5 linked regions of the Homo sapiens genome follow. The protein of the gene in region 2 purifies or fractionates together with the protein of the main gene of each other region. This does not show direct contact. Each region holds a gene or a part of one and is shown on either strand. Other genes may lie near its edges.

Evidence for each region.
Region 1: the proteins of QTRT2 (region 2) and PGM3 purify together in Homo sapiens (affinity purification with mass spectrometry, with the first as the bait; one large-scale study listed by BioGRID). This does not show direct contact.
Region 3: the proteins of QTRT2 (region 2) and WAC fractionate together in Homo sapiens (co-fractionation; one large-scale study listed by BioGRID). This does not show direct contact.
Region 4: the proteins of QTRT2 (region 2) and MTARC1 purify together in Homo sapiens (affinity purification with mass spectrometry, with the first as the bait; one large-scale study listed by BioGRID). This does not show direct contact.
Region 5: the proteins of QTRT2 (region 2) and BDH1 purify together in Homo sapiens (affinity purification with mass spectrometry, with the first as the bait; one large-scale study listed by BioGRID). This does not show direct contact.

Annotation. Positions count from the first base shown.
Region 1 is NC_000006.12:83,172,268-83,176,579, reverse strand, and holds part of PGM3 (phosphoacetylglucosamine mutase), read left to right. Parts: intron 1-519; coding exon 520-618; intron 619-2,092; coding exon 2,093-2,206; intron 2,207-4,312. UniProt on the Homo sapiens protein: Catalyzes the conversion of GlcNAc-6-P into GlcNAc-1-P during the synthesis of uridine diphosphate/UDP-GlcNAc, a sugar nucleotide critical to multiple glycosylation pathways including protein N- and O-glycosylation.
Region 2 is NC_000003.12:114,066,287-114,070,598, reverse strand, and holds part of QTRT2 (queuine tRNA-ribosyltransferase accessory subunit 2), read right to left. Parts: intron 2,613-4,312; coding exon 2,536-2,612; intron 1-2,535. UniProt on the Homo sapiens protein: Non-catalytic subunit of the queuine tRNA-ribosyltransferase (TGT) that catalyzes the base-exchange of a guanine (G) residue with queuine (Q) at position 34 (anticodon wobble position) in tRNAs with GU(N) anticodons (tRNA-Asp, -Asn, -His and -Tyr), resulting in the hypermodified nucleoside queuosine (7-(((4,5-cis-dihydroxy-2-cyclopenten-1-yl)amino)methyl)-7-deazaguanosine).
Region 3 is NC_000010.11:28,620,118-28,623,612, forward strand, and holds the end of WAC (WW domain-containing adapter protein with coiled-coil), read left to right. Parts: 3' UTR 1-2,995; downstream 2,996-3,495.
Region 4 is NC_000001.11:220,796,177-220,800,488, forward strand, and holds part of MTARC1 (mitochondrial amidoxime-reducing component 1 precursor), read left to right. Parts: intron 1-466; coding exon 467-629; intron 630-1,697; coding exon 1,698-1,838; coding exon of another isoform or gene 1,839-1,889; intron 1,890-1,975; exon of another isoform or gene 1,976-2,099; intron 2,100-2,655; exon of another isoform or gene 2,656-3,013; intron 3,014-4,312. UniProt on the Homo sapiens protein: Catalyzes the reduction of N-oxygenated molecules, acting as a counterpart of cytochrome P450 and flavin-containing monooxygenases in metabolic cycles.
Region 5 is NC_000003.12:197,510,621-197,514,932, forward strand, and holds part of BDH1 (D-beta-hydroxybutyrate dehydrogenase, mitochondrial precursor), read right to left. Parts: intron 3,797-4,312; coding exon 3,644-3,796; intron 1,745-3,643; coding exon 1,275-1,744; 3' UTR 1-1,274.

The sequences.
Region 1 (4,312 bases), on a different chromosome or scaffold from region 2:
TCCATTTCTTAACCTTCTAATTGAACTTGCTGCTATTTGCAAACAAAGTTTTATTGGAATAGAGCTATGTTGATTTGTTTATGTATGGTCTGTGGCTGCTTTTGCACTGTAATGGCAGAGTAATTGTGACAGAGACCATATGGCCTGCAAAGCCTAAAATATTTACTGTCTGGCCTGTTACAGAAAAAGCTTGCAATTCTGCTCTAAGCTATTCTCCACACTGTAGCTAAACAGCTTTCTAAAACAGTTAGGTCATGTCACGCCCCCACTTGTAATCTTTCGTGTCTTATAAGGAGACCCTCATCTCTCTCACCGTGCTTTACCCTTGGCTGCGTGCTTCCAGAGTGTGTTCATGCTTCCATTGTATACGTACCATTTTGTATTTTAATGCTTAATCGTCTTCCTCACTGGACTCGGCCCCAGTATTTTGTTCCCCTTTGTATCTCTGGGATACTAGGTATGCAAGAAACATTTGACATCTGAGTAATTGCTGTATTTCTTTAAATGCATGTGTTATAGGTACCTGTCTATTGCACTAAGACTGGTGTAAAACATTTGCACCACAAGGCTCAAGAGTTTGACATTGGAGTTTATTTTGAAGCAAATGGGCATGGCACTGTAAGTTCTCTTAATTATAGTTGGCCTTAGCTGGCACTTTTCTTTATGATGAGACTTCTATATCTGGGAGGTAATAATAGGTAATATTGTACTTTGTTGAAATAATTGGATGTGACAAAAAGATCCTTTGGTTATCTTATATATTGATGTATTATGAAACTGTGATTCTCTTTTACATGGTAATGATTCTTCTTTGAATGTGAAGAGATATACTAAGGTGTTTTGAATAGTTTTTTAAAATTTACAGTTCTTAATTTTTTTATAAGTATGTTGTCTATGCATTTTCCGGCTGGCCATAGGAGAGGAAAAGAAAAATTCAGTCGCTATGGTGAATTGCAAAGTGTTGGAAAGTTGATAATTAATAAGAAATGAAAATGAATTTAAGGTAACTAGTGATAGGCATAAAATGTTTCAATTTACATTTTACATAAAATTACATTTTAAAGTGTATAATTTAGTTTTTTGTAGATTCATAATGTTCAGAATATTTTTAAAATGTTTTTATACTCACCTCATTTAATGAATACACTTGAGGTGGCTATCAGAACATTTGAATCAAAGCCAAATAATTTTCCTCATTAATTTAAAATTGGCTTTTGGAGGGCATAAATATAAAAAGGGGAAAAATAAGTTCCTACAAAATGCAATTAAGATATAACTTTAGTGATCGAATGGAGAAGTTGGTAAATTATTTTCTAAAGGGTAGAGAGTAAATATTTTTGGATTTTCAGGCCATAAGGTCTCTTACAGTTGTTTAACTCTGCTGATCTAGCTTAAATGAATCTGTGTGGTTGTGTTCCAGTAAAACTTTACAAAAACAGGTGACTAGCCTGTGCCTTATTTTATCAAGAAAAATGTATTTCATCAAGTAGTTGAGCATAGTATGCTAATCTTGCTCAGTATTAGGCCTCTAGAAGGCAGTAAAAAAGATGAGTATTTCCAAATGAGATAAGACTCTTGAGGAGCATGATGAATTATATATTGTAATGACTATCCATGACATTATTTGCCATATTTTGATGAATACTATGAACTCTTAATTTTGCCTAGCTCATCCCCTTAAGTTTTAGAATAAAACTATACTAGCTGCAATGAATTATATCCTTCAAAGTAAAAAGGATACAGACAGGCTCTAAGTAACCTGGTTGCACAGAAATGATTTAGCTGGTTAAAGGGAAAACATGAACTTACTGTGTGTGCTTGCCTCTTGTCAAGGTGGTGTTTTCTTTGTAATCAGATGTTTAAATTTTTATAACCAGTTATATAATCCGCAAATAAAATTTTTCCCCTAGTACTATCCTCTGGGTTTTAATGTGATCTTACATTAATTTCATACATTTTAAGGCTGCCACTATTTTTCCCCTCAGTTTCTCCAGATTGACTAGGAGGGAAAAGTGGGTTAGCTAGAATAATAGTACTTATGACTAGGTTTTGGATAGTGTTTTGAGACTGATTTTATATTCTTTTGCTGCAGGCACTGTTTAGTACAGCTGTTGAAATGAAGATAAAACAATCAGCAGAACAACTGGAAGATAAGAAAAGAAAAGCTGCTAAGATGCTTGAAAACATTATTGACTTGTTTAACCAGGTCAGAACTGATGGGGCAGTGGACTCTTGGTTACCTTTACATTATTCAGAAGATGGACAGAACAGAGTGTGGGTGCATACAAAATTAAAGTGGAGACGTCCTGGCCTGGTGGCTTCCTTCTAATAGTGGTATATTCAGTTGAGATTTATAATGAAATGGAATGACAGAACATTTTTTAATATGCTTCCCTTCCCCTACCTCTTATGATGGAAATTTTCAAGTATATTGGGTAGCTTCTACCTAGGATCACAGATTCAGCTACTCAGTGTATACATATATATTATTAATTTTTTTTTAACCAAACCTCGATGAAATTAAGTAAAAATAACTGGTTGTCAGGCCAGGCACGGTGGCTCATGCCTGTAATCCCAGCCCTTTGGGAGGCCAAGGAGGGCGGATCACGAGGTCAGGAGATCGAGACCCTCCTGGCTAACAGGGTGAAACCTCGTCTCTACTAAAAATACAAAAAATTAGCCGGGCATGGTGGCGGGCACCTGTAGTCCCAGCTACTCGGGAGGCTGAGGCAGGAGCATGGTGTGAACCCGGGAGGCAGAGCTTGCAGTGAGCCAAGATCACGCCACTGCACTCCAGCCTGGGTGACAGAGCGAGACTCTGTCTCAAAAACAAACACAAATAACTGGTTGTCTCATTGACAAAGGACATACATGTGGGTTAGTTGGGGTTGGAGTGTCGTTTGGCTATGGAAAAGCAGTACTCAGGGTAGAGGAAAGCGATTCAATTATTTGAGTGTCTTGCACACACTGGACACTTTATATACCTTGCTGTGTAATCCTTACAGTAACACAGGGAGAGGTGTTACTGTAATTTCCATTTTATAAGTGAAGAAACAGAGATTTATCTTCAGTTATATCTTATACCAAAGCTCATATTTCTCCATTTTACCTTGATGCTTTCTATCAATCATTGTGGGGTAATATCTCAAAAGGGATCTATTTATAAAAAGAAAAATGAGTGATGGAATGTTAGGCTGAGCCTTAGAGTTATCCAGTCTAATTTCATTTTATAAATAAGGAGTACTAAAGGCAAGTTTCTCAAGAGCTAGTTTCAGTATTCTTTGTTATACCTTTCATTGTCTTCCACAGAGATCTTCACCTCATTGTTCGTATTTTATCCATCCACAAAAACACTTCATTTAATCATGCTGCATGTGAGAAAGCACATGATATAGGCTGAGTATCCCTTATCCAAAATGCATGGGACTAGAAGTGTTTTGGGTTCCAGATTCACTGGATTTTGGGATATTTGCATATATATAATGTGACATCTTGGGTATGGCACTCAAGTCGGAAACACTAAATTCTTTTGTTTCATGTATGTTACATAAGATTAAAGGTGGTTTTATAGAATACTGTAAATTTAGTGCATGAAACAAAGTTTGTGTCTACTGAACCATCAGAAAGCAAAGGTGTCACTCTGTCAGCCACCCGTTGGACAATCTGTGGTTGTCTGGCATCACCATCATTCCTAAAACTCTGAATTTATATGCTATCAATCAATAAGCAATCAATCATTTTTTTACACTTATTCACACACAAGTATTTTAATAGTAAAAAATATGATACATATCTGGCATGCATGGAAACGATGTATCATAGCTGAAGGAGGCTGAGAGGGTCTTTTTCCCTTGGGGATGCTGAATGAACTGCGGGCCTGCCTTTAGTGGGTTTTTTTTGTTGTTGTTGTTGTTTTGTTTTGAGATGGAGTCTCGCTCTGTTGCCCACGCTGGAGTGCAGTGGCGCAATCTTGGCTCACTGCAACCTCTGCCTCCCGGGCTCAAGCAATTCTCCTGCCTCAGCCTCCCGAGTAGATGGGATTACAGGCGCCCACTACCACACCTAGCTAATTTTTGTATTTTTAGTATAGATGGCGTTTTACCATGTTGGCCAGGCTGGTTTCAAATTCCTGACAGTGAGGTCAGGAGTGCATTTGTTTTTTATTAAGAGACAAGGTCTTGCTATGTTGCCCAGGCTGGAGTGCATTGGCTGTTCACAGGCATTATCACAGCACACTGCAGCCTCAAACTCCTAGCTTCAAGTAATCATCCCATCTCAGCCTCTCCTGAGTAGCTGGGACTGTAGGTGTATG
Region 2 (4,312 bases):
TAGCAAGAGTAAAATGCAAATAAAAATAAAATAATTAAAATGATAAAGCAATAATTCTTCTTTACAACTGCAGAGATGGTGACAATTCAATATCCAGACATGGTGGGTAATAGGATCTTATAGCTTACAGATAATCCTTCAGTGGTCATATAAGACAACTTTTGAGCTACCCACCAAGAATTCTTTGTTATACTTTTCTAACATCTTCTGCTCTCCCCTATCCCACCTGCCCCACCCCTACCTAACCCTTGCTGTTCCTGAATATACCACAGACTTTGATCACACTGTTCCTTTTGACTGACAGTTCCGTATTTCTTTTTCTTTTTTTTATTGATACATATTTGTATAATGTTATGGGGTACATGTGAGACATCTTACATATAGGGCAAGTGTAATAATCATGTCAGAGTATTTAAGTATCCATCACCTCAAGTATTTATTATTTCTAGGTGCTGGAACTTCTACTTCTTTGCCTGGCAAAATACTACGTGTCCATTGAGACACTGAGTTCACATATTAATCTGATCTCCAAACCTCCTGGACATAATCGATCACTCACTCCTCTATGCTCTTACATCAATTTGTATTTATTTCTTTATAGAAATGATAGCACTTATTACACCATTCTTTATTTGTCTGACTAGAGTATCCCAATTCATGTATGTATCCCAAAAGCACAGTCTAGGGCCCTATACATTTTTAATATCTAGTGTTTACTAGACTGAGTTAGATATAGAATTAAAGACTTAAATCTCCTAGTTCAAGAGAGTATATATTAGTAATATTCTATCTTTGAGCTAAAAGCAAAACTACCATTCAACCCAGCAATCCCGTTACTGGGCATATACCCAGAGCAATATAAATCATTCCGCCATAAGGACACATGCATGCAAATGTACATTGCAGCACTATTCACAATAGCAAAGACATGCAATCAACCTAAATGTCCATCAATGATAGATTGGATAAAGAAAATGTGGTACATATATACCATGGGATATTATACAGCCATAAAAAAGAATGAGGTCACGTCTTTTGCAGGAACATAGATGGAACTGGAGGCCATTGTCCCTAGCAAACAAATGCAGGAACAGAAAATCAAATACCACATGTTCTCACTTATAAGTGGGGGCTAAATGATGAGAACACATGGACACAAAGAAGGGAACAACAGACACTGGGGTCTACTTGTGAGTGAAGGGTGAAAGGAGGGAGAGAAGGATAAAAGGTAACTATTGGGTACTAGGCTTAATACCTCAGTGATGAAATAATCTGTACAACAAACCCCCATGACACAAATTTACCTATGTAACAATGTTTACACGTACCCCCGAAACAAAAATAAAAGTTAAAAAAAGGGAAAAAAAAATTCTATCTTTGGTTACCCTACAGATCCCTCTTCTCAGATCAACAAGGACATAGATGGCAGGCCAACATATAGTCGTTTTATTTTATACTAAGGCATCAGAATTACTGGTTAAATGATTCCTCTCTCCCTTACAATTTGGGTAGAAAATGGAAGTCAAAGTATTTTTTTTTTTTTTTGAGACAGAGTCTCGCTCTATCACCCAGGCTAGAATGCAATGCACTGGTGCGACTTTGGCTCACTGCCACCTCTGCCTCCCAGGTTCAAGTGATTCTCTTGCCTCCACCTCCCAAGTAGCTGGGATTATAGGCGTGTGCCACCACACCTGGCTAATTTTTGTATCTGTAGTAGAGATGGGGTTTTGCCATGTTGGACAGGCTGATCTCGAACTCCTGAGGCTCAAGCCATCTACCCACCTTGGCCTACCAAAGTGCTGGGATTACATGCATGAGCCACCATACCCAGCCAAAGTATTTTCTCTAGAATTCAAACTACAAAATAAATAGAAACTTAAAACAGGAGAATGAGTAAAAACAGTGTTCTGAGGGGCACAATTAATAAATATTGCTGACATTAATAAAGTGAGTGCAGGAAAAGTATTTGCGTTTGTAAAGTAGCAGTACACACTGAAGCTTTGCCAGAATGCTGTCCTCAGGGATAATGCCAATGGGGCCACCTCTCAGCCTAACACTTTTAATGAGGTGCTTTTGATACTGTTCTTCACTAGACAAAATCTCTGGCTGTAGACCCAGCAGACAATATTATATTGAGATTCTACTATATATAGTTATACATGTGATAATACTCATCAGCAACTTTCCCCACTCTTCCTGAAGTTGTTAAAAATCCAACAAAGCATGGCGCCGAAAGACTATCGTTTTCCCCTATCATAGCAATTTCTTTTTTTGGCATGTATTTGACCCTCCTCTACCCTCAAATTTTTTTGCAACAATGAAAATGCTGAGGATACAGTGTTCTTCATCTTAACCTCATCCTTAGGCAGCCCTACTCTAAGTCTTATAAACCATCCCATCCCACTATAATTATCGAAATAAGGAAAAGGTATAAGGGATCATCCCAGACAGTGGGATCTGAGCATCTGAGGGATACACCATAGGCTGACTTCCTGGGACAAAGCTGCAGCCTTGGAGACCCTTCTGAAAACACACCTTGTTTGTTACATAACCAGCCGGGCAGGGGCTGACTGGATCGTGCAGGGAGCAGTACAAGAGTGATTCTGGCATGCCTGTATAAACACAAAAAAGAACCCTTGAAAGTGCTTACATCAACAATGACACTGTATTATAGCAGGGAGCAGCTTCGCAATGTGTACTGCTGAATAAAGCAACTCTAAACACTGTCAATAGGTTGTATCTGAACTTGGAATTAGAGAAGGCCTATCAATATGTATAAAAAGATTACTAATCTAAAGAAAGAAATATAAAGCTTCACGTCTAATAAATAGGTACTGAGCTGCTACAAAGGAAAGATGTATCTTAAAGCACAATATACAATGAAAGTATTTAGTGACATGTTGATCTCATTTGACTTTACTTAAAGAATTTACTATCAAATATGCTTATTCCAGGTACCATCCAAGGGGAACTAGCTACCGCAAAGATAAAATGATATGCCCACAAAGTGATCTCACTAATAATAAATCTCAATAATATCATGGGTCCCTAGGGGCAGAATTTTAGAGAAGCTATAGGATGCTGCAAATGGATCCCATTCTTAGTAAGTTTCATTGATTCACGATGACAGTTTCTTAAGTTCTTCAGTCAAAAAGACAATCATTTTTTAAAAAATGCAAAAAAAGTTTAGTAAACCATGTGCCTAAATATCATATGCTAGCCCACATTTTCGTTAAGGAAAATAAAACAGGATTCCAGTGAAAAAAAAGCAAGTGTAAAACCTCTGCAGTTTTTTCACTTTATTTTCCATAATTTCAATTATTACAATTATCTCTAGAAAGCCTACATTAGCTATTTTCATTTAATTATATGCTTGTATACTTTAAAGCTGGTTATTAAAATTGGGCTCAGGTCAAGGAGAATGATATTCCATAAATTCCTCTACTAAAATACAGGGCTTTGTGATAACCAACAGGACATCATGCAGCTGCTCTCAGAAGCAGAAGACTGAATAACCAATGGAAACAGGATTTTCATTCAAGTGAGTCCTAGATACCAGAAAAAGCGTTAGGAGAAAGCGGTGTATAGAAGAACTGATGTTCTAGCTGTCACTGCTAAGCTTTTCCTATAAATAAATAGATGCATACATCTGCATATAAAATCCTATTTCTGGAATAAAGGATAATATTAACATATCAGAATACAGCCATATACAAACGCTTCATCCTCCCCTGCATGTTTGAGGTTCAAGCATGATGAGACTACTTTGGAGCTCACGAATGCCCCATGCAAGTTCTCACCGCTGAGTCAGATACTCAGTGCCTGCAGCATCTGCCCCACACCTGTCTGGGCTCCCACTCCTAACCTGGGTAACTTTTACTCTTCCTTGACCCAGCTAAAATGCCCCTCAACTTCTCTCTCAAGAATCCTTTCTCTGGGTTTTTATGGAGGCGTAAACAAAAAAAAGAATCCGTTTTTTATTCTGACCACCTTGCACATATACCCTAGAGCAGGTTATATGCTCTGCCCTCTGGCCTGTCATGATATCCATACATATCCCTAATCCTGTAAAGCAGTAACCACAATTTTTACTAGAATTCTCTATCTTTATCCCAGCTAGGCTCCAAATTCCATGAGAGCAGCAACTGTTTCCTATTCAATCTTGACTTGCCAATGCCTGGCTCTTAGATGTTCAAATAATACTTATTAAATTTATGAATAAACAAACATATGAATGAAAGATCAAAGAGGTAACAGCACCTCCAAACTCCAAATTAACACATCACAAGGCACATATAAGTAACTTAATTTT
Region 3 (3,495 bases), on a different chromosome or scaffold from region 2:
CACCTGATCAAGAGCAGTGCTTCTCCATTTGTTTTGCAGAGAAATGTTTTTCATTTCCCGTGTGTTTCCATTTCCTTCTGAAATTCTGATTTTATCCATTTTTTTAAGGCTCCTCTTTATCTCCTTTCTTAAGGCACTGTTGCTATGGCACTTTTCTATAACCTTTTCATTCCTGTGTACAGTAGCTTAAAATTGCAGTGATTGAGCATAACCTACTTGTTTGTATAAATTATTGAAATCCATTTGCACCCTGTTAAGAATGGACTTAAAAGTACTGCTGGACAGGCATGTGTGCTCAAAGTACATTGATTGCTCAAATATAAGGAAATGGCCCAATGAACGTGGTTGTGGGAGGGGAAAGAGGAAACAGAGCTAGTCAGATGTGAATTGTATCTGTTGTAATAAACATGTTAAAACAAACAAAAATTGTTATTTTTCTTTTCCTTCGGTCAGTGCACATTAGCATTTGAACTACCTGGGGATTCTTTATCAGAACTGTTCTTGTTGAATATTTATACTTAATTGAAATAATTCCTTAAGGGAGGTTTTGTTTAAAACGTATTAACAGGAAATTGTGTATGAGATATTTAATGAAATAAGAAATTCAACAAGAATGATTAAGTCACTTCCCAAGTGGTTGTCATTTGTTAAACCCTGGTTTACCTGTCTTGCTATTATGACATTTCATTTGGAAGGATGTTTGTGTTGTAGCTAACTGTTCAAGTCTGGTGCTGACTGCTGTTCTTAGCCATCACAAAACGCTAAATTTGTGTAATTGGAGCTTCCTGCTGTTATCTGGAAATAGCAGGAAAGCGCAGCTTTGTATATTGTTTCCTAAAGTATATTAAAATAAAAAAAGAAACTATTGCTACTATAAAATTACCTTGACTTTTTTTTTCCTTTGCTGAAATATTAGTCACATAGCCTTAGCTTCACACTGCCAGTAATGTATCAAATCACAAGGGTTTCCGCATGAAAAAAATCTTTTCTTCCCCCACAAAAAAACCTTTACCATCAAAATCTTGCCATCTGATTTAGAAAGGTGTTTCTTCTTCTTCTTCTTTTTTTTCTTTAAATTGGTTTAGGGTTTTTTGGTGATTTTTTTTTTTTTTTTTTTTCTGTTGGGGCAGATAAGTGCTTCCAAAACTGGCAGCACCAAGGGCTTATTTTTTATGTTAGACATCAATGTCAATGTTACTACATTCTCGGATGCTAACATAAATTTTGAAATTGCTCTTGTGCTTTAAGCATATATTGAAAGTATGGAAGTTAAATGTTCAGGCTTTTCAGTAAGCTCAAAAAGTTAACTGTAAGCGATAGTGTTGGTGTTTTCTAAAATACAAAAATGTTCCAGTGTAATTAAAAGGAATTAAAATCTTGAAGATATTTTCCTGTAATTTAAGGATACTTTTTAAATGTAAGAAAAGACATGTCATTAATTTATTGTCATGTTTATACCTCTGTGAGATTGTTAACATCTGCTGAATTTAACTAGTGCATGTAAATGAAACCCCAAAGAGCTGTGTGTTCAGCTAGAAACCTTACTGTATCTTTCCTGGAAAGAAGTGAGCAATTTGTTGTAATAGGCAAATGTTTCCTGATCAGATGGCAATTTGTGATTTAGGTAAATTTGAATTTGATTTGCTTATAGTCTACTGGTCTGTGTACCTATGTTTTGTTTTTCAAAAAAGTTTACATCCCTAAATGAATTAGTCACATATATTTAGGAGAAGATGCCTAATTTGGTATTTCTTAATAGTGAATTTTTTTTTTTCTTGAGACAGAGTTTCACTCTTGTTGCCCAGGCTGGAGTGCAATGGCACGATCTCGGCTCACCGCAACCTCTGCCTCCTGGGTTCAAGCGATTCTCCTGCCTCGGCGTTCCGAGTAGCTGGGATTACAGGCATGCACCACCACGCCTGGCTAATTTTGTATTTTTAGTAGAGATGGGGTTTCTCCATGTTGGTCAGGCTGGTCTTGAACTGCCAACTTCAGGTGATCTGCCTGCCTTGGCCTCCCAAAGTGCTGGGATTACAGGCGTGAGCCACCGCTCCTGGCCAGTAGTGAATTTTTAAACACAGAAAATCTAAAATTTTGTGGAAATATTTTAAATATTGCACCTTAATACAAGGTATCCAGCTCCTAACCTTAACTAGGGAATATCTATTAAAATAAGCATAATGTTCTGGACTAGAGTATTCCTTATCTAGTTGGTTATGGATTTGAACATGTACCTTGGTTTAGATACTTTGAAAATAGAAGTACTGAATAGCCTCTAGGGAACTTGAGTGGCCTTTCCCTCCCCCTGCCCCCCCCCCCCCCCCCCCGTTTTAAAAGATCAGTAGTCTCTATTCAAACTTTTAAAATGTCGTGGTATTGTAACAATATATTTGATGAAAGAAGGTTACAGACTCCCCTGAAGAACCAGCTTTCCTACGCTTTTTATTTTTCTAACTTGTCTAACCTGATTTTAAAATGACTGCAATTCCAGACTAAAAACATGCTTCAGCCCTGTTTCAAGACATTATGCTTCTTTTAACAGTCCAAATTAGTAGTTTTATTTTTCTTCTAAATCTTTGTTTCACACTTGTAAAATCTTGGGAAGGAGGTTCTTAAAACTTTGCCAGGAATTGTTACCCATTTCCAAAAACAGTTTATTATGTTCAAAAACCACCATATCTTTGAGGGACTGTTTGAAAGGGGAGAGGGCAACGCGGGAAATAATTCACTCTGCGCACCGGAACTATTGTAGTTCAGGACTTCCAGCTACTGTATTTAGATGTTGGGTTTGAATATACAGATTTCTTTTCAATACCTGTAAATATGGCTATATTCTTGTATTTGTACGGGAGTGTACAAAATGACACTGAAAAGTAATAAATATGTTTTGACTATATTGTGCAGTTATTTCAGAACTGTGTTTTGAAAGTCTTAGAATGCATAATTTGCATTTGAGTAAGGAAATTTAAAATACAGATTACTGCTGAGATTTTAATCAGTCGGTGTGTTTCAATAGTCTCTGAAACATTTTAGTGAAAATTATGACGTAAAATTGGGATTCTTTAGGTCCTGCTCTAATTTGCGGTACCCTCCTTTTCCTGATCACGACCTTTGATAGTGCCCTAAAGTGCAGCCTGTCTAGAAGATCTCATCCAGGCTCTTGGCTCTAAAAACCCCTTCATGTGCTACTTTACATCCCGATTATCTCCAGCCCTGATCTCTTTGAGTTCCCAAAAACAGTCCACTTAGATGCTTTCCTTAACACGGCATGCACTCCAAAAAGAACTCACGGTTTGTGCCTCAGATTATTCTCTTTTAGTTTTTTAGTAATTGACACCATCATTGTTAAAGTTGCCCAAAACCCAAATCAAGTCATCCTTCTTTTCTAACACTCGATATTTAATCCATCAAGACCCACAAGCTCTTTGAAAATGTTTCCTTAATGTTCACCTCTCTAGTCCAATCCACGATCATCTTTGAACCAAATCCCTGCCA
Region 4 (4,312 bases), on a different chromosome or scaffold from region 2:
TTAGGCTTTATAGAACATTTTCATATTGTTGCTGTACTATACTGGCAAAGCATAGCCAGGCCTGTGAATAAAGATTTCTGGTCGCTATTCAGCTGGGTGAACTAGATTTTGCAGTAATTCTAAGTTTACTTTATACTGATACATTAGTTTTCTTCTGGAGAACTCAGTACATTTTTAAATATATTATTTCATTTCATCCTCCCTGCATTCCTTCCAGGTAGGGAGACACAGTTGTACAAAACTTGATTTTTAAAATGAGGAAAGCAATGCTTAAAGGGGTGCTTTCATTTTCATTTGGCCTTACACAGGTTTGGAGTCAGGACCAGGACTAAAATTACATCTTCTGATAATTAAGAAATGACAGTAATGTTACAGCTAGGAGCAGCTTTTCTGATATAGCTGGCACATATTAGGGTGCATGGATTTTCAAAGCCATGTCTGCCCTTTGCTCCTGCTACCCCTGCAGAGTGCACGGCCTGGAGATAGAGGGCAGGGACTGTGGCGAGGCCACCGCCCAGTGGATAACCAGCTTCCTGAAGTCACAGCCCTACCGCCTGGTGCACTTCGAGCCTCACATGCGACCGAGACGTCCTCATCAAATAGCAGACTTGTTCCGACCCAAGGACCAGGTGAGAGGTTCTGCTGCCTCCATGGGTAGAAAGCAGTCACCCCCAGATCAGGGGGCTCAGGTGGCATCTCTGATGACCTCGGCTCTGTTGTTTTCTGGGGCAGCCCTCTGGTAGCTCAGATCACAAGCAGTAGGCAGAAATAAAGCCCTTCCCTTGGAAGCATTGTTTGTTTCTTTGTTTGGGGGACTCTTGAATTTTTGCCCTTGAGCATCTACCTTCCTATTTGTGTAAGCATTCTGATGCCAGTAGGGTTTCAAAACTGTTCTGCACCAGTGTCTTTTTTTCATTCCATTCTGTAATTGCACATGGAGTCCAGAATTTTTACAGTTTGCAGTTGTATGTCAGATTCCAATTGTGCAAGTTGGCATGGGTATGGAGATACACAGACTCAAATGATCAGCCTTAATGGCATAAAGCTCTAAGGATTCATCATAAAAGCAGGGTTTGTAGTACCATATACTGCTTTTACCATGGCCATAAAAAAAATAAATTATGCTGTAGTCCTTACTGCTAAGGAGGCTGAGGTGGGAGGATTGCTTGAGTCCAGAGAGTTGAGGCTGCAGTGATCTGTGATGGCACCATTGCACTACAGCCCAGGTGACAAGGAGTCTCTGTCTCAAAATATATAAATAAAGAAACAAGCAAATGCATAAATTATGGTCAACATAAATATTAATTTGTAAGTTGCATAAAATAAGTATTCATGGAATTAGTGAACATTTAAATCAAACATAATGAGGTCATCAAACTCAACCACCTTATTAAACATTTGAGAAATGGGAGGCTTAGAAAGGTTCAGTGATGTCCCCAAGGGCACATGCCTTGTGGCAGCTTAGGATTGATTCTGAGTCCTTGTTCCCTTCATTCCACCATGCAGTTTCTGCTATCTGCAAGGCTATTGAAAACTTCTGAGTCACTGTGACTTCTATTAAAAGAACAAGAGAACTACTTTGAAAGATTGTGTGTGGGGTGGGGTGGAGCATGGAGGCTATGTCTAGGAACTAGGCACACCTAACCACTGAAAAGTTGGTGTGCCATGTGTTATAACAATGTCTATTTCCTTATCAGATTGCTTACTCAGACACCAGCCCATTCTTGATCCTTTCTGAGGCGTCGCTGGCGGATCTCAACTCCAGGCTAGAGAAGAAAGTTAAAGCAACCAACTTCAGGCCCAATATTGTAATTTCAGGATGCGATGTCTATGCAGAGGTAACACTATGCCCCTTTGGATCTTTCCTTGGATTTGACTTCTTTTTTAAGGTATGAGAGTCTTTGACATTGGATTAGATTATTCTGAAGGGTGCATTATTTATCAACTCTGTAATACATAACAATTTGATTTTTAGATTTATTCAGCACTTAATAAGTGCAGACTTCTGTGTGGAGGATACAAATGTTGATGGGTCAGAGACTGTCATCAAGGAGGCAGTTCAGTATCTAAGGCTTCTAAGGAGAATTCTGAGTTGACAGGTTCGTTGTTGAGTCACATTTTCTTGCATAGACTACATGATCTGTGTGGGCCATGGAACAAAGAAAGTGTGTGCTCCTGTCTTGTTAAAGGATGGTCTTACTGTTTAGTAGACGGCTCTCTTGGAGAAGACAGGCATTTACTGCAAGGCTGCTGGGTGAGGGTTGGGAGAGGTTGTTGCCCCTAAGCTTCATGGCACTACCCTGAAATGCTTGCAGTGCCACCTTCCATCTGCCCTCAGATGTTTGCGTGGTGACTTAGCTTGAACAGCCCTGAGGCTTGGTTTCTGGGATTCCACAGGATTCTGGCAGCAAATTTACCTTTGTAATAAATGGCCTTTGGCTATTTAACTTGATTCTCTCCCTGGGCTTCCATGAAGGCAGAGGTTGGTGGCCTAGAGGCATGGTGAGTGGCCACCAGCTGTGGATACTCAACAGAAACCCTGACCCACAGCTAGGAATTCAGGAGCTCTGGTTGTGCCTCAAATTTATGTTGAGAAGGGAGAGGTAAAGGGGACCATATAGTGGTTCTTACGTCTGCCCATTTCCTCCATAACAGGGAAAAATGGAATCAAAGCAATTGAGTTTTAACCTTTTATCCTCAGAGGAGCCAATTATATTCTTCACTTTTGCTGTACGGAGGCAAAACTATGCTGAAAGAGAAATAATCTAAGAATTTGATTCCCACATTCAAACCAGAAGATGTGACGGCTGGTTTCAGCTTCTGCACTGGCTTCTGCATGACTTTGAGCAGCCCCGCTAAGTCCCATTTACCTTGCCTGAACAATGAGATGATCATATTTCTGCCTAGGGTTACCTTAAGGGTCTGTTGAAGGGTCAGTTTGGATAATGTAATTTATGAGATGTATAAAAGCAATATCAATCGATGGAGGATAATAAAAGTACGCCCAAATCCACTGCTAATGCTTCATATAAAATACTCATTGCTCCAAACTTCCAAGGGTAGCGTTTCTTCTAAAGATGGTGGAGAACTTCCTAGTGTGAGGCGGGTGGACTGTGTGCATGTCCCCCAAGGTCCTGGGTTGGGCATCTCTCAGTGCTTCTTTGTGACAAGAAATTTCTGCCTGTCCTGCTCCTGTGCACCATGGGCCAGCCTGACTTAGACAACAGGAAAATAATCAGTGTTTGGTTGCCTTTGACCATCTCCTTGATATTCATCTTCCACCAGCTATGGCTAGGAGAGCCATTTCTCCTGAGAACGTTCCTTCTCAGGAAAAGAGAAATGAGTGGGGAGGGTTTTGAATGAATACTTGTGTTGCGCTTAAGTATGTTGTCTCTTCTATGCCTCACGGCAGCCCAGCGGGATAAAGCTATCATTCCTATCTTACAGGAGAGAAGAGAGAGGCTTGGGGAGGTGAGGTGGCCTGCCCTAGGCTATACCACAGCAAGGAGGGGCTGGGTTTTGAACCCCAATTGTACAAGGCCAGAGGAACCCTGAGAATTCTAGGGCATATGTATGGGGCTGGGACAGCTGGATTCTAATCCACCTGCTTCCGCAAGTGACCGTACAAGCCTGGACAGGTCACCAAACTCGCCGAGGCATCTGCTTCTTGCAGTTGTAAAACACGGGCAGTTTCAATGACTCCCTCGCCTGATGGGAGCTGTGAGAATCAAGGTCGATGACAATTTGTGGAAAAGTTCTAGGACATTAAGTACCACAGGGAGGTAAGGAAGAGTTTCATTCCTGGGAGTTTGGCTCAGGTACCAGCTTTTTCCCTATGATCGACTTTAAGCTTTCTTTCTCCCCTGTGTGATTTGTGCACCGAGGGTCATGCTGAAGCCATTTCCACCCCAAAATTCTGTGACAGTAAGATTCGGATGACAGGAGAAGAGGAGATGGCCCAGAGTAGAACTTCAGATCTCGGAGATTTCTTTCAATTGAGTCTTACTCTAAAAACCCGTATCTCTCTCTCTATCTCTGAGTGTTCCCTAGTTGAGAACATTCTGTATGTGAAGCTGGGCGGTAACACAATGGTGGCTGAGCCGGCCTTGTTTTTAGTAATTCACCCATCATCGAGTGGGTTGCTGCCCCTGTGTGGCATGCGCTGTGAATAGACACATGAGAACAAGGGTTGAAGAAATGCACTTGCTTCTCCTAAGGAGCTCAGTGTGGTCAGATAGTGAAAAGTCACAGCACAGTGAGATATGGCCAGGAGGGTGGCGAGCAGCCAGACGTGGGGACGTGACTAACACCT
Region 5 (4,312 bases), about 83 Mb from region 2:
TGTGTGTGTGTGTGTGTGTGTGTGTGTGTGTGTGTGTGTGTGTGTGTGTGTACATGTGTGTAAGGTGTGTGTGTGTGTGTGTGTGTGTGTGTGTGTGTACATGTGTGTAAGCACCACGTGAGGCAAGCAGGGACCCCAAATCCACTGCTAGGGGAGATGCCACAGTGCCCTGCCATGGCACCACTGCTCGTGCCAAGCCTGCCCCATCGACACCGGCCCCACCCAAGGCAAAACCAAGCAGACCCAAACCAGTAACAACTTATCCCCTTAGCCAGAGAGCACCTCCACACAAGTCTATCCTGAGTCCTAAAAGAGGATGGAAAAATCTCAAGTAAAAATCTCATGCCTGTAATCCCAGCACTTTGGGAGGCCAAGGCAGGCGGATCACTTGAAGTCGGGAGTTCGGGACCAGCCTAGCCAACATGGTGAAACCCCATCTCTACTAAAAATACAAAAATTAGCCCGGCATGGTGGTGGGTGCCTATAACCCCAGCTACTTGGAAGGCTGAGGCAGGAGAACCGCTTGAACCAGGGAGGCGGAGGTTGCAGTGAGCGGAGATGGTGCCATTGCACTCCAGCCTAGGGGACTGAGCAAGACTGTGTCTGGAAAAACAAAAATCTCCAGAAACATTCCCACCCCCTCCATACAGCCAGCTCTGAGTCACTGGCTGCTGGCTGGCCAGTCACACAGCACCATGGACATGCAGAGGTACCAGTGGGCACTTGGTGTGTGCTGCCCAGATGAGGACACAGAGTTAGTCAGAAGATTCTCGGGCAAATGGATCCAAAACAGTCCTGGAATGCAAATGTGAAGTATTTCCACAGCCGTGGCAGGAACACATAACTGGCACTATTTATAAGCGATAAAAGGGTTATTTCATGCATCCTCTTTAAGCTGCAAATGCTTCATTTACAAAAGAAAAAAACCTGTCCTTTTCATTCATGAGACTGGCTTAAGGATCAAATGAGATCTGTTTTTAATATAAAGATGTTTTCTTAAAATCTCTGTATGAAATTATCTCCGGAGAGATAGATTCACCATGTTTGCCCTGAGATTTAGAGGCCTCTGCCTGCCACTCCACACCCTGTTTGTGAAGGCCCAAGTCACTCACTATGCAAAGAAGTCATTCCCTCTAGTTAGTGTTAAAACCAGTTATGGGTCTTCCTGGCATGGTGGATAATCCACACGTGGATAATCAAGAGTTGACTATATGGGTTCCTCCCTCCCCTCCCCTTCCACCAGGGATCCCTGACAGAGGCCACAGCGAGACTCTTCAGCGGATGTAGATCATGTCGGAGATGGCTCCAGGCAAGTGGGTCATGATCTGCATTCGCAGCCACCAGTAGTAGTCCATGGGGTGGTAGCGGGTGTAGGGGGTGGTGGCGGTCAGGGCGTGTGTGACAGCATCGATGACAGGGGACGTGTCTGTGGAGCCACTGCTGCAGTAGGTCTCCATCTTGGCGATCTTTTCATCAAAGTACTTCTTGCCGTAGTCCTTGCGCACGACCTCAGGCAGCTCCTCCCACATCTTCTTGGCGATGGCCTGAATGCTCTCAGGGCTGTAAAGGCTGGTGGCAGCGATGAAGTTGCCGGGCTCCACCACGCTGACCTTCACGCCCAGGGGGTACATCTCATAGCGCAGGCAGTCCGAGAAAGCCTCTACCCCGAACTTGGTGATGCAGTACGGGGAGCGGGCCGGGTTGGCCATGCGGCCCAGCATGCTGCTGATATTGACGACGCGGCCTACAGAGGGAGACAGAGGTACCTGCTAAGCCGTTACTGCCCTATGACACAGCGGGCAGAAGTCTGGCATGTCTCTAGAGGCTTGGCTGGAACCACTTCTGAGCCACCCAGGAGCCTTCTCAGTCAATAGGCAAGGCCAGCTCAGGCCCACGCATCAGCATCGGCACCCCTGGTCTTCCCTGGGAACCTGGCTGTGCCAGGCAGGACAGGGGAGGACAAGTGAGTGAGAAGCAGCAGGGCACAGTGTAATGGGCAACACGCAACTGACTCAAAAACCAGATCAAGCCCGATGCGGTGATAATTTGGGGTGAAAACACGAGGGGAGAAGTGGGAGGCGAGACAGCTGTCTGTGTGGATCTGAGCTTTCACTATAGGCAAGGTCTGGTGCTGGTGAGGGAGAAATACAGCCTGAAAGCTTCCCCTTCCCCTTATGGAGCTTAAAGTCCAGCTCCAGTAGTACGACGTGCAGATAAGTAGCACACTAGGGCCAAGTGTCTAGCCACTGACAGCAGCCCTGGCGATGGGGGTTGGAGTGCAGACGAGGAAGTACCTGGGGCTGCAGCTGGGAGGGAGCCCCGGGACAGCCCTGAAAGAGGACAGGACCCGTGCTGTTAGGCCCAACTCCCCAACTCCATTCCACCCTGGTAGGGTGGAGCCTGGGTGGAGACCAGGACCGCCTGGCAAACAGAGCAGCAGGCAGGGGCAGGGGCAGGATTTCTGAACCTGACTTCAGGGCTAGGATATGAGGAGAGAGTCCTGGGCACTGGGAGAGTGTGGTGATCCCCCTCCAAAGGCCACAGGCCCAGCCTGGGGGCATCAGGGGCCTCCCACAGCTCCTCCTGGCCCTGGGAACAGAGGGGTTGGAAGTGGATTGCATTTGGCCCAGCCCGGGAAGCCGAGGCGGATCTGGGACCAGTTTTCCTGGGAGGGAACTCAGCCCATCCAGGTGTGTCCCGGGGAGGGCACTCAGCCCATCCAGGTGTGTCCCCGGGAGGGCACTCAGCCCATCCAGGTGTGCCCCCGGGAGGGCACTCAGCCCATCCAGGTGTGCCCCCGGGAGGGCCCTCAGCCCATCCAGGTGTGCCCCCGGGAGGGCACTCAGCCCATCCAGGTGTGCCCCCGGGAGGGCACTCAGCCCATCCAGGTGTGTCCCCGGGAGGGCACTCAGCCCATCCAGGTGTGTCCCCGGGAGGGAACTCAGCCCATCCTGGGGGAGGCACCTTTCAGAAAGCTCTAAATTTGAAGTCACTGAAGGGTTGGGGTTTCCATCTAAAATCCTACAGCTGCAGTCTGTGTTCATGCTTGTTGTTGCTAGGACTTCACCATAGATGTATGGATCTTACCCTTTTTGCCACAATTGTTTGCTATGCCAGAGAAAAAAATCCAAGTCAATGACTTCTAAAGTGGTTTGCTCACATTTGGCCACCCACATGGTTTGGGTGTTTTGTTGGTTTTCCAAATTTCTAATCTTGATTTTTACTATTGTTCCCTAATACCACAATGATCTCATTTTTTAAACTACGATATAAATAACCCATAGAATGAATATGCCAGATTTTACTAACCACACCTGACTGATACAAAGATGTGTACACACAGCTTTGTGCAAAGGGTGATTCTCTCTATAGATTAGGTGTGCAGAGTGGATGGCTGCTCAACTCTTTAAGCTTTTGCTGCATGGACCACTGACCTCTTACCTGCTCTGCTTCCTCCTCCCCTACCCGGCCACAGCCCCTCTGCCCACCATCACCCCAGGCCCAGCATAGTCCCTGGGATTCACGAGCTCACCTCTGCTGAGTTGTGGACATTGGAGCTGCTGGGACAGGTATTTCCATTCTGAGCAAAGATGAACACGTGGGGCAGGTTCAGGGGCAGGAGGGAGCTCCCTTTCCCACTCACCTTTGGCCCTTCGGATGAGGGGGAGAAAGGATTTCGTCATCCGCACTGTGCCCCAAAGGTTCACTTCTGCCACCTGCTTGTAGGTCTCCAGGCTGGTGAACTCCACCTCCCCGAACGTTGAGATGCCGGCATTGTTAACGAGGCCCCACATGCCTGGACAGGAGAGGGATAGATGTGCATTTACCACATGGGCTTGGCCCAGACATTGCCCATCAGCCTGCAGGCCAGCCTCCTCTCTGCTTCTTTCCTGTGACTTCCCAGCCTCTCGCCCAGTGCTCTCAAGAAACTTTCTAGAGTCACTCAGGAACGACAGGAGGTAAAGAGGCCTAAAGTGCTGACTGCAGCCCTCCCTTGCGTCTAGAATGTCCAGTCCTCACGTCACATCTGCCTGGCTCGAGTCTCTGGGCCCATCATGACCCAGCCTGCCGTGTCCCCCGGCCTTCAGTCTCACCTCACCTCAAATTCCCACTTCCACTCCACTCCACCCCATCCCATCCCCACACCCTGAGTTTGAGTTTCACGCCCCGTTCCTGTTTACTCATCTCTGCCCTTGAGCTTTTGCTCACGTCTTCTCTTCTCTTGCCAGAAGCCAGGGAAATCACAGGGGAGGTGGGCACGAGGAGGCAGCTGTGTTTTGCAGGGACCTCTCTGAGTTCAGTTTGTTGGGGT